Homo sapiens: one gene and its partner. The protein of the gene in region 1 purifies or fractionates together with the protein of each later gene. This does not show direct contact. Each region holds a gene or a part of one and is shown in the gene's direction. Other genes may lie near its edges.

Evidence for each region. The genes of interacting proteins can lie anywhere in the genome.
Region 2: the proteins of MSR1 (region 1) and COLGALT2 purify together in Homo sapiens (affinity purification with mass spectrometry; 2 studies listed by BioGRID and IntAct, with this or other methods). This does not show direct contact.

What each region holds. Positions count from the first base shown.
Region 1 is NC_000008.11:16,107,349-16,112,653, reverse strand, and holds the end of MSR1 (macrophage scavenger receptor types I and II isoform type 1), read left to right. Parts: intron 1-2,435; coding exon 2,436-2,569; 3' UTR 2,570-4,773; downstream 4,774-5,305. UniProt on the Homo sapiens protein: Membrane glycoproteins implicated in the pathologic deposition of cholesterol in arterial walls during atherogenesis. Two types of receptor subunits exist.
Region 2 is NC_000001.11:183,936,714-183,943,747, reverse strand, and holds part of COLGALT2 (procollagen galactosyltransferase 2), read left to right. Parts: intron 1-2,960; coding exon 2,961-3,167; intron 3,168-4,710; coding exon 4,711-4,987; 3' UTR 4,988-7,034. UniProt on the Homo sapiens protein: Beta-galactosyltransferase that transfers beta-galactose to hydroxylysine residues of collagen.

The sequences.
Region 1 (5,305 bases):
TTTTATCTCATTGGTTTACACAAGGATAAAATTTTATGAATTTTATACTATCTGCATTAACTTTTTAATGCAGAAAACAATTTGGAATGAGACGGAAAATGTGTATTAAATAAATTTTTCCCCTGGGCTCAATAGTCTTGAATATATTAATATAAAAATAAAACAACAAATCTTTGGAAATTACTTCTATAATTCTATCTAGACATCTATGTAACCCATGAATATCACTAAGCTTTAAGTGTCATCATGTTCTGTTGCCTGGATCTATTCTTTGTAAATTTGAGAAAGTCATACACCCTTTCTCAGTCTCAGTTTATGTATCTATGAAATGGAGATAATTATCATTATTTAACAAGGTTATTATAAAAAGTAAATTTAGAAATGTATGTGAAAAGACCTAGCATATTACCTTATACACAAGCACTTAAAAAATTTTCACTGTGTCTGAAACTGTTCCACATAGCAAAAGACAGAGATACCAAATTCCACAATACATTTGTCACATCCATGTGTCCTCAGAGGAAAAATAACCAGAATAAGAATCAGAGGCTCTAGATGCCAGTATTTGCTCTGGCATGATTGTATATGTGATCTCAGTTGCTTCATCTACCTAGAACATAAGCCCTCCCAGGAAGTCAGTCCACAAGAGTATGGAGTTTGGTCTTGTTCACTCGTGTAGGCACCAAAGGAGATTTGCTAAATAAGTAAGTCTAATAATGAAGGAGGTTGCAGTAAGTCATTGATTTAAGGCAGTGGCTCAGGGTGGATACAGGGTGAGAATCCTGTGCGACTTTGAGCACGTACAGTTCCTTATCCTTGCTGATTTTCAGTTTCCTCAACAGTAAAATGACACAATAATGGCATTCAGTTTTTGAAAGTTATTTGAGGATTGCATGGAATAATACATCACATGTATAAGTGTTTCCTGCCACATAAGAAATTCTTAAAAGACTGGACTTAAATTTTCATTATCAGGACCACAACCTTGGTATTCTAACATTCGTGAATTCCCTTACTGCAATTTCTAAAAACATGTGCTTACATGTCAGCACATTAGTCAACTAAATAATTTCTTTCCTTTGCTATTCATGTTGGGATGGCCTTGCTGGTGCTGTAGACATTGGGAGAATTCCCACTCTCAGTTTCCTTTTCCTGGATTGTACAAATTCTGCACTGCTGAAATCTAAATTCACTGAGTAGACCTACAAAATACAATTCGAAAGCATCACAGTAGCCCGGGTTCACAATTCATGGAGCCATTCTCGCACTCTCCAAATTATGACAGAGCCATGGCTTTCACCAAAAGTTTAATTTCTGTTTGTTTATACAATTTATAAATGACAATAAATATAATAGATATAATTTATAAATGTCTCGTACTTCGGCTTCCTCCTGTATTAACATGGGAATAGTCTTACTATTTGTGCAATTGTTTTTATTTGCCTGTATTTTTAAGTAGCCCTTTGAGGCTTTCAAAAAGTTTTTATAGACTTTATATACTTATAAGGAAACACAGATATACAAATACGTATACACATACAAACATGCTCACACATACAATCACAAACACAATAGGAAACATGCCATGCCTAGTAAGATAATTTGGGAACTAAAAAGTGTCCCTGGCAAGGTTTCTGATTTTGAGATCATATTCCTTTTTTCTTTTCCTTCTTCTGCCTTAAAATTTCAAGTAAAAAAGCCTCAATACTGTTATAAACACCTCAAAAAATACTTGGGCTCTCCAACTTACTGTTAACACTCTTACAATTGATCAGCTCAGGAAAACCTTTGCTTTGTCATTTTCTTGCTGTTTGTTTGTGTTTGCAATCAGTAGCATTCTTAATCCATGATTTCCTTACAGGATGGTGTGTAGGCCCTTTGCTGATTAGATTAGTTCTACTTTAATTAAAAACAGATAATGTATTTGATAAACCAGGCACACATAAATTGAAATACACGGGAAGATAACAAAAGGAGGAAGATGCTGATATTAAGTTTTCCTTTTTCCGGTTTATTTTATGTGCAAATATACCCCAAGACCCTTTGACATACAGATACGCTTGGATCATCAGGTTATTACATGTACCCATGATTATTAAGGCTCAAACTTTCTTCTTTATTTTTAGATTAATAATAAAACTAATTTGTCAAATCCTTAAAAAAACATTCTTAATCTCTACTTTTATAGAACTGTGTAGGTAACTTTGTTAGAGCTCTTCTTACTTTGCATTTTAGTAGTTTACATGTTAACAGAGTATAAAGTGTTCTGAAGCAGGAGATTAATTTTTGATTCCTACTAGAGAGCACAGAACTTGCATACAGAAAATAATCAACACTTTTTTGTTTAATTAGTGAAGGAATTAATGGCTTTGCCCCACTCAAAGAGAAACACTAAACTCTAAACTTACTAATGCAGTTATACCTCATTATTGCAGGTACTGGTCCAATATGGCTGAATGAAGTGTTTTGTTTTGGGAGAGAATCATCTATTGAAGAATGTAAAATTCGGCAATGGGGGACAAGAGCCTGTTCACATTCTGAAGATGCTGGAGTCACTTGCACTTTATAATGCATCATATTTTCATTCACAACTATGAAATCGCTGCTCAAAAATGATTTTATTACCTTGTTCCTGTAAAATCCATTTAATCAATATTTAAGAGATTAAGAATATTGCCCAAATAATATTTTAGATTACAGGATTAATATATTGAACACCTTCATGCTTACTATTTTATGTCTATATTTAAATCATTTTAACTTCTATAGGTTTTTAAATGGAATTTTCTAATATAATGACTTATATGCTGAATTGAACATTTTGAAGTTTATAGCTTCCAGATTACAAAGGCCAAGGGTAATAGAAATGCATACCAGTAATTGGCTCCAATTCATAATATGTTCACCAGGAGATTACAATTTTTTGCTCTTCTTGTCTTTGTAATCTATTTAGTTGATTTTAATTACTTTCTGAATAACGGAAGGGATCAGAAGATATCTTTTGTGCCTAGATTGCAAAATCTCCAATCCACACATATTGTTTTAAAATAAGAATGTTATCCAACTATTAAGATATCTCAATGTGCAATAACTTGTGTATTAGATATCAATGTTAATGATATGTCTTGGCCACTATGGACCAGGGAGCTTATTTTTCTTGTCATGTACTGACAACTGTTTAATTGAATCATGAAGTAAATTGAAAGCAGGACATATGAGAAAACTGACCATCAGTATATTTGTCCAGATAATTGGTGGATCAAAAATGCCACTTAACAGGAAGTTTAGTTTGTTATGCACTTTAAATGGAATAATTAGCTTGTTACAATTCTAGGACATGGTGTTTAAAATTTAAATCTGATTAATCCATTTTAACAAACAATGCAAACATCTTCAGTGCAGAAGGAAGAGTGGTTTCAACTGTTTGGAGTCTTTTATGAAGTCAGTCAACATTTACAACCAAAGGGCGGGGGGGGGGGTGGGGGGTGCGTCTTTAGTCCTAAAGGGACAATAACTCTGAGCATGCCCCAAAAAAGTAGTTTAGCAACCTTTTGTTGGTAGTCAACCCATCCCCAGGGCCATAGTGTAGAGTGTGAAAAGCTACCCTGAAACCCAGTAATTCTACCCTGAAAGTGACTGCCTGCAGAAAGACCAGCAGTTGATATTAAAGCGCAAATGAATTCAACCTCAGCCCTGAAAATAACAGAATTCTGAAGTTTCCTATGACTAATTCACAAAAAAAGTAATTGTAAACTAGTACTATTATGGAATTACTCTACTGTTCTTTCTTTAATAGTGGCAAATGAAAGCATAAGCTTAAGCATTTTTTCATATTCTGAAGTCTCACCACACATAATAACCAAGTGGTAGACTCACAGCCGTCCAACTTAAAAAGGCAAAACCTTACCTTGGAATTGGAATTACTGTAAACAGCCTACTGAAAATGCATTTTTATCATGTAACATTCTTCTACTTGTTTAACATTGCTGATTTTCTCTGGCAGCATAATTTTGTGGTTAAGAGAATGAATTCTGAATGTACACTTTCTGTCTCAAACCCTGGCTGTAATTTCAGCTAGTTAATAATTCTTTGTGTTCAGTTCCACTATCTAGGTATTTTCTTCAAAAGGTAAATACAATGGTTTCTGAAAGAATCATTTGCATTATCAGCCTGTTTGGGATGTCTGAGATCAGTGCCTCTGGGTTGTTAATACTGTATTGCTGTATGGTATATGTATGCTGATTTACTACTTATGCGTAAGTGGTATGCATGGGATGTCTGAAATCAGTGCCTATGGGTTGTCAATAGTATTAACTATTAGTGTTAACTGTTAGTATTAACTATTAGTATTATTAACACTAATAATAGTACTATTACTATTACTATTTTTATTTTAAAATAAAATTTACCTTTAAAATAATAATAGTACTATTGCTAGTACTAGTACTATTGCTATTACTAGTACTATTACTAGTACTAGTACTATGACACTGTTAATAGTACTATTAACAACCCATAGGCACTTGGGATGTCTGAGATCAGTGCCTATGGGTTGTTAATACTATATTGCTGTATGGTATATGCATGCTGATTTACCACTTATGCATAGATATATCTTTAATAAGTAATCTAAAAATCCTTTTTGTATTTGAGAGAATCTACTAAGTTCAGTCCAGTCAAGAAAAGAACCTAATAGCACCAATACAAATTGAGGACTTAATTTACTTTGGAATGTTGAATTGCATTTGTTCCATTAAAAAAAACAGAAATTTGCGATTTGGTTTTTTTGAAAAAATAGCTCAGCTGACCAGAATGAATGTATTCTACTTGTTGAGCCATCCAGCATCACGTTAAATGCAAAATGTATATATAAATAAAAGAAGAAGAAAAAAGAAAGACCAAAGGGATGTAGAAAATGAAGAATAACCATTAATATCTAAGGGCCAAACACATTCCACCTAAATTATCTAAATAGTTTCAAATCAAAACTTTCCATTTTTTCAAAACGTATAGACCATAGTAGTTTGTACTTAAGTAAAGCATTACATTAATTTGTAATGTGCCTATTACAAATAATATACAGTTGACCCTTGAACAATGCAGAGGTTGGGAGCACTGATCCCTTCACAGTGAAAAATCCACATATAACTTTTGACTCCCCCAAAACTTAGCCACTGAGAGCCTACTGGTGACCAGAATCCTTACCAATAACATAAATAGTCAATTAACCATTTTTGTATTACTAATAATGTCAACTAACACATTTTATATGCATGATGTACTGTATTCTTACAAAAAAATAAAC
Region 2 (7,034 bases), on another chromosome or scaffold:
GAGGTTAGAGGGTCAGCCAGGGAGCTCCTCTGTTGGGAAATGGGGCTGCACAAACATGAAGAACATGGACAACTAGATTTGGGGAAGGGTCTGAGGCTGATGCAGGAAAACCAGGCTCACCAAGGGAGTGCTGGCTCTGAGCTGACATTTAGTTAATGTTCTTTGTCTACTCTCTGGGAATTGAGTGGCTTCTGCTTTTTTCTTCCCTTCCCTTTCATTTTTCCTTCCCTTCCCTTTCATTTTTCCTCTCCCTCTCTCCCTTCCTCTTTCCTTTTTCTTCTTCCTCCTCTGCCTCCTCCTTTCTCTCTCTCATTTTCTTTTTAAAACAAATGACACTTTCAATTTCTCTCCAATGAAGCAGAAAGTTCCCAAGCATTGTGTTTGCTCCCAGCTGTGTGTCAAAGGCAATTCATCAACTCTGAGCCTGCTTCTTTGGAGCAGCTGCAGCAGAGGAGCTGTCCCTGCTTCTCCCACCCACAGGCGGTATTTAACTGTGGGCCCAGGTGGAATACTTGTTCCCTCAGAAAATGGGCCACTCTGAGCTCAGAAGAAACCTAGCAATGGCTCAACTAATGCGTCACTGTGTAATAAGACACCTATGCCCTGTCAGATTTCAGTCATGTGGTCATGTGGTTTGGTTTGGCATTCTGCACAGTCCCTTGAGATCACTGTTTCTTCCTATATCCTCCAGAAGTCGCTGCACTTCAGCCTTTCTCAATGGATGGCTCCGCAGCCTGTGGTTAAGGCCTCACAGGCCTGGAAGCTACTTGATGTCCACGTGACTTGTATAAAGGCAACTTCACTTAAGCCTCATAATCACAGAAGACTGAGCCCAGAGAATCTAAGGTTTAGAGCTGGCATACGTTCCCGTTCACATGTAGTTCGGTGGGTGCATTTCTCAGGACAAAGTACCGACAGATGCAAGAAGGAAGAACAGTTGTCTTGATAAGGATACAGGAAAAAAATGTTTTCTAAATTTCACAGGTTGATCAAGTCAAAATATCCCCTTAAAATCTATTATATAGTCTTAAAGAACTGTAACAGTTTTAAATTGTACCTGTTATTTTCTAAAACAAAAAAGAAACAAATGTTACTTAAACCTAAAACATGAAAGGTAATAAGCTGTTCATGATTGCCACATTACATCTTTCCAGGAAAAGAAAATAATAAAAGGGAAGAATAGAACAAGTCATTGGAATCATTGAGGGAGTGTTGTTCAATAGAAATATAATGCAAGCCACATATGTCATTTTCAGTTTTCTAGTAATCACATTAAAAAGGTAAAAATAAATTAGACTAAATTAGTTTTAATACATTTTATTTAACAAAAATATCCAAACAGTATCATCATTTTGGTATGTAATTAATATTTTAAAACCATTAATGACATAGTTTACCTTCTTTTTTTTTTTGTACCAACTCTTCAAAATCTGGTATGTATTTTACACTTAGAACACCTCTCAATCCAGAAGCTAAATTTTCAGCTGTTTAAGTAAACTGGGCTGGGCGCAGTGGCTCACGCCTGTAATCCCAGCACTTTGGGAGGCCGAGGCGGGTGGATCACGAGGTCAGGAGATCGAGACCATCCTGGCTAACACGGTGAAACCACGTCTCTAGTAAAAATACAAAAAATTAGCCGGGCATGGTGGCGGGCTCCTGTAGTCCCAGCTACTCAGGAGGCTGAGGCAGGAGACTGGCATGAACCCAGGAGGCGGAGCTTACAGTGAGCTCAGATTGCACCACTGCACTCCAGCCTGGGCGACAGAGCAAGGCTCCATAAAAAAAAAAAAAAAGTAAACTGTCGTCCTACCAAAACAATGAACTTGTTTCATGGAAAAAATATATATATTTCACACAGCTTCAACATTTAAAATTAAATTAATTAAAGTTAGAGCATTAACTCAGCACCTCTATCACTCTAGTTCCTCTCAAGTGCTCGATAAGAGTTTCCCTTCCACTGGATGAGACACGAGAGAAGCTCAGACTCCGTAATCTGAAGAGAGAGTGGCTGGGGATATATGTTTGTTGTTCTCAGAAGAACTGAAGATTGAACATAGACTTGTTCTACAAATCCTGGGATGCTTTCACAAGGGGGAATCCCTTGAATGTTGAAAGAGATTGTTTTAGGGCAAAATAGAGGAAGTACTGCTTTACCTGGCAGGCAAGAAGGAGGCAACTCCTCAGGTTGCTCCAGTCAAGCCCAAATCAATAGGTTCCGGACAAAAGTAATGGAGCACAGATCCATGGGTAGACTAGGGAAGATGGGAGTGGCCAAAGGTGCATCCTGTGTTGTAGAAGTTGTTCACGGAGGACGGAAGGTGCCTGGGGGGCCTTTCTCAGAGCAGCATGTCTGGGAGGAAGCCTGGCCACAGCTGGACGAGTGTGAGGCAGGAGAATGCCTGTCAGGAGCTGTCATTCATCCTCCCCAAAAGGAACCCCTTAGGGCCACTCTTGGGTTCCCAGAACCTTCACTGCAGACTGACTCTTTCCCCCAGCTTATTTGGTCCTGTGTTTCCCACCAGCACTCGGAGTGCTGTGCAGAAGGCATCCAAGGCTGACACTCTGGGGACCTGAAGACAGCAGCCTCAGGATTCTCCCATCTGGCCTTTTTTTGTGCCTTTCCAACCTCTGTAAACACAGCTGGAAGCCCCATCCCATCTTTAAGAAATGATCTGAAAGATCTTTTAATCTTACGACATCTTACTTTCCGTCTTGAAAACCGTCCACTAGGCAGGAATAGTGGGGGTGTTGATAAATGGAGCTAGCAAAATGGCCCCAGTGATGGCAGATGGCAGTCCTGACTGGCGATTGGATCCACTTTTGGATGTGATACATCATTTAATGACAGACAGAGTCAGTCCAGGATTTCAGAGGTATCTATGTAAACCAAAGCTGTGCTTCATCCTTATCATGGCATAATAGTCAAGGTGGAATTTTTCTCCTCTGCCATTTCCTTACAGTTATATTGGTAGGAAGAGGATGCAAGTAAAGGAGCCAGAGAAAGCAGTGCCCAATGTGGCAAACCTGGTCGAAGCCGACTATTCCTACTGGACCCTGGGCTACGTCATCTCTCTGGAAGGAGCACAGAAGCTGGTTGGAGCCAATCCTTTTGGGAAGATGCTGCCAGTGGATGAGTTTCTGCCAGTCATGTACAACAAGCATCCCGTGTGAGTCTCCCTGAACTGCCTGCCTTCCCTTGGGCACAGCCTCTTCATGAATTATGCTCTCCATTTCTGGTAGTACTTGATATTTTCTAAAGTTGTACTGCTTTCCTAAATGATCTTCTCATAATTATGATTAAGAGAGCCTAACTCAGGTGATTTATCCCTTTGTACAGATGGGAAGGTGAGGCAGAGATGGTGAGTGTCCTGCCCAGAGATTCTTGTAATATCCAGTTTGTAGTTGAACTGAATGTAATGTGCTTGGTCCCCTCCTTGTCTTTGCTCTTCTTATTTCCATAACCTCATACACCTCAAGGTGAAGGCCATCTTCCTAAGCACCTCAAAATTTCCAGTTCCTTTGGCTCAGGTCATTGGGTACTGTTGGCTAAGCAGAGATACCCATTTTTGCATAGCTCACAATCTGGTCAGGAACCCAGACTCATGAACAAATCATCATGATATATTGTGATTCCTGCAATCGCAGGGGTGTGTAAGAGGTTCAGGGAGTGTGGACCTGATACCTGAGCATGATGTCCATGGAAGAAGGGCAGTGTGATGCTTGGGGCTCCCATAGCCCAGGAGCTTACCCTGACCTAGCGCTTATCAAAAGGTGTGGCAATTAATGATTTACCTGTCAATCTCCCCAATAAACTATAAACCCTTTGGGGCAGTAACAGTCTTATGCCTCTGTGTCCTTAGAGCCTAGTCCAAATGCTACACATAACAGCAGCTCCTAAATCATTAATGAATGATTCCTAAATTCATTGATGGAGCAGCATTCGTTCTAACCTTGGCCCCTTCTCTCAGTTGCTGGGTGATCTCGTCACTAGATGGTCTCATTTTAGCTGTTGAGATTTCCTGTGCTGCCACCAGTTCATTTTGTCTCTTGTCCTCAGTAAAAATGGAGTTGTGTGCCCTCTTGTATATAACATGTCAGAGACTGACTTTATCTCTGTGTCCTAGCAGAAACATGGAGGTCAAACCATTATCCCCTAAACAAAAGGGAAATTACTACATTCAGATGTCACCTCATGTACTCTGCACAGGAGCCCTGAGAGGGAGGCCAAGTCATCCGTCTCCTTTACACCTGTTGGAACCGGAGTGGTGAGCAGGGAGCTAGAGCACAAAGCCAAGCCTGCGTGCCTCTAAGCCTCCACGTGCCACATGCCCCATCACTGCTGTCCAGATGTGAGGTGTCTCATTTATTAATCCCAAAGCAGGGCATTTTTGGTGAAGTGATCGTATTTATTTATCATTATGGTCTAACAGGGCTTACTTTTTAACTTTTGGAGTCAGACCTGAAATTCATCTTTTAAACTAGTCTATTCAAATACGTCAGAAATGTCCTGATCTTTTTGCTTGGGAGCTTGTCTTTGGAAAGCTTTTAAAGAAATATTTGTGTTTGTAGGCTAAAGTTTTTCACAAATGACACAATTGAAATAATGAAATGAACTCATGAGGTAACCAGGAGGCCTCCTTCACTCTTTGTCCCTGTTCCGTAAGTCTCCTTTCCGCCCCCTCATGTGTCCGGCCACCTTCTTGTTTTCAGAGCCGAGTACAAGGAGTATTATGAATCCAGGGACCTGAAAGCCTTCTCTGCAGAACCCTTGCTCATCTACCCTACGCACTACACAGGCCAGCCGGGGTACCTGAGTGACACGGAGACCTCCACCATCTGGGACAATGAGACAGTGGCCACCGACTGGGATAGGACACATGCCTGGAAGTCCCGGAAGCAAAGCCGCATCTACAGCAATGCCAAGAACACAGAGGCCCTGCCACCGCCAACCTCCCTGGACACTGTGCCTTCAAGGGATGAGCTATGAAGGCTCCCTGGGAGTGTGGCCCACATCAGTTCAACATCCTCTGGTTTTTCTAAAGGGCTATTCATCTGTTTGCTCCAGTTTTCTGTTTTGTTTTGTTCTTAGTGGTCACAGTCATCTAACCAAAGTGATCTAGTGTGATAGATCGAAATTAACATATTTTTGACCATGGAAGGAAATAAGGAAATTCAACCCAAATTTCCCAAGACGGCTGAAAGACAGGTTTTTTGGAAACTGTTAAGATAAACTGTAATCCAGACACCTAATTCTTCAGTTCACTACTCATGTGATACTGATTCCCACATTAAGGTTGAACAACATGGCTCAGAGTCTTGTTCAAGAGAAAGTGATCACCGAGCTGTCACATCAGCAAATATGTAGTCAAGGCAGCCAGGCCAACTAGACCACACTTATTGGTCTAGTTTGTCCGTTTTATATGACATTGAAAACTTGTGTGTGCAACTTTTGGGGGACAGGAATCACTTAAAATCATATTTATTTGGCTTTTTATTTAAAGGATTCTGTCACAAGTCTTATTGAAAAGTAGATTTTTTAAAAAAAAAAAATCTTAGTCCCTGTTATCCAGTAGGGGTGGGTATTTGGGTCCGACTGAGACTTGGCCTGTGACCATCATGGCAGTTGGAGTTCTCATATAGAGGTGACCAGTTTGCCATGTGGATATAATTTAGTAGATATTTGACAGTTTGTGTAGGTATTTGAGGGAAAAAACTCAATGTTTGGCTTTTTTATTATGGCCACTCGAGTCAGGATGCTCTATTTATAAAGATAAATGTAATATATAAAGGGTGAGGACTGGCTGTGCATCCTGCCCTGTCCCGGGTTTGCGCGCTGCTACAGAGCTTCACGCTCTCCGCTCCACCCCTTAGCCTGGGAACCCACCGCAGGTGTGAGTTCTGTGAGTCACTGCTAAGAGACAGAGCACATTTTCAGGCCAGCAACTATCCTTGCCAGAGTTTTTTCATTATATTTTGAATTATTTATTTTACAAAATGGGCGAAGATATTGTCTTTAGGATAAGGCAGAGAAACAGATGTTGCAGACTTCCACGGCACCCGGGGGAGTGGTGGGTGTGGACACATTGGTTCGGCAATCTGATTCTCCTGAATTTCCCAGCCAGGCTCTTGTGGGGAGGCCTGTGGATGGGGGGATTTGAACTATTTGGAAACAAATGATTCTCTATCTCAGGTGAGAAACCTGGTCAGAAACAAAGGGCTGGTCACCTGATTTAGGCCAGCAACCAGGGAAGCTCTTAGAATCCCAGGCGGACACCCTTTCTCAAAAGATATCCCCTAAGAGTCCTTTCTGCTTTCTTCACAGATTGATTTTATGTAAAATGCAGAGTTGGACTACACGATTTCTTCCCACTCCACAATCTGTCATCCTAGTATAGATCATGGTGGTTTCCCTCAAGTTTATGTTCTCATGCCCTCAATCTGTAAATTTTTGTCTCCAGAAAAACCCTCCCAGGCATCCCATACCAGCACCGTTCCTCATCACTGTCCATGCACCATGCAGCCATATGGGGGGCCGTGCACACCCCAAACCCTGAGCTTCACACTTAAACTCATGGGGAGGGCCCTTCAGAGCAGAGTCCACAGGCGGGTGGTGCTACATACACAAGCTTAGTGTACGAGTGTAAGATACACTTTAAGCCAGACACCTAATTCTTCAGTTCACTGCCCATGTGATACTGATTGCCACATTAAGGTTGAACAGCATGGCTCAGAGTCTAGAGAAAGTGATCACCAAGCTGTCTCATCACCAAATAGGTAGTCAAGGCAGCCTCATCTCCCCAGGTGAGGGGCGGGTCCCCACTTTAGGACAAGAGGCAGCTTGCCTTCCACCAGACGCCAGCCTCGGCCTTCCTTCCCGACTCACTGTGGGTACCCTTCTACACTGACCAGCAAGCTAGGCCGCTGGAGGAAAGGGAACTCACCCAACTCTAAATTGTGCCGCTTAGACTTAGCTGTCAGTGTGACTTCCTTTCCCACCCACCCCCAGAAAAACAGAAAGAGCATCTGGGGAGCGA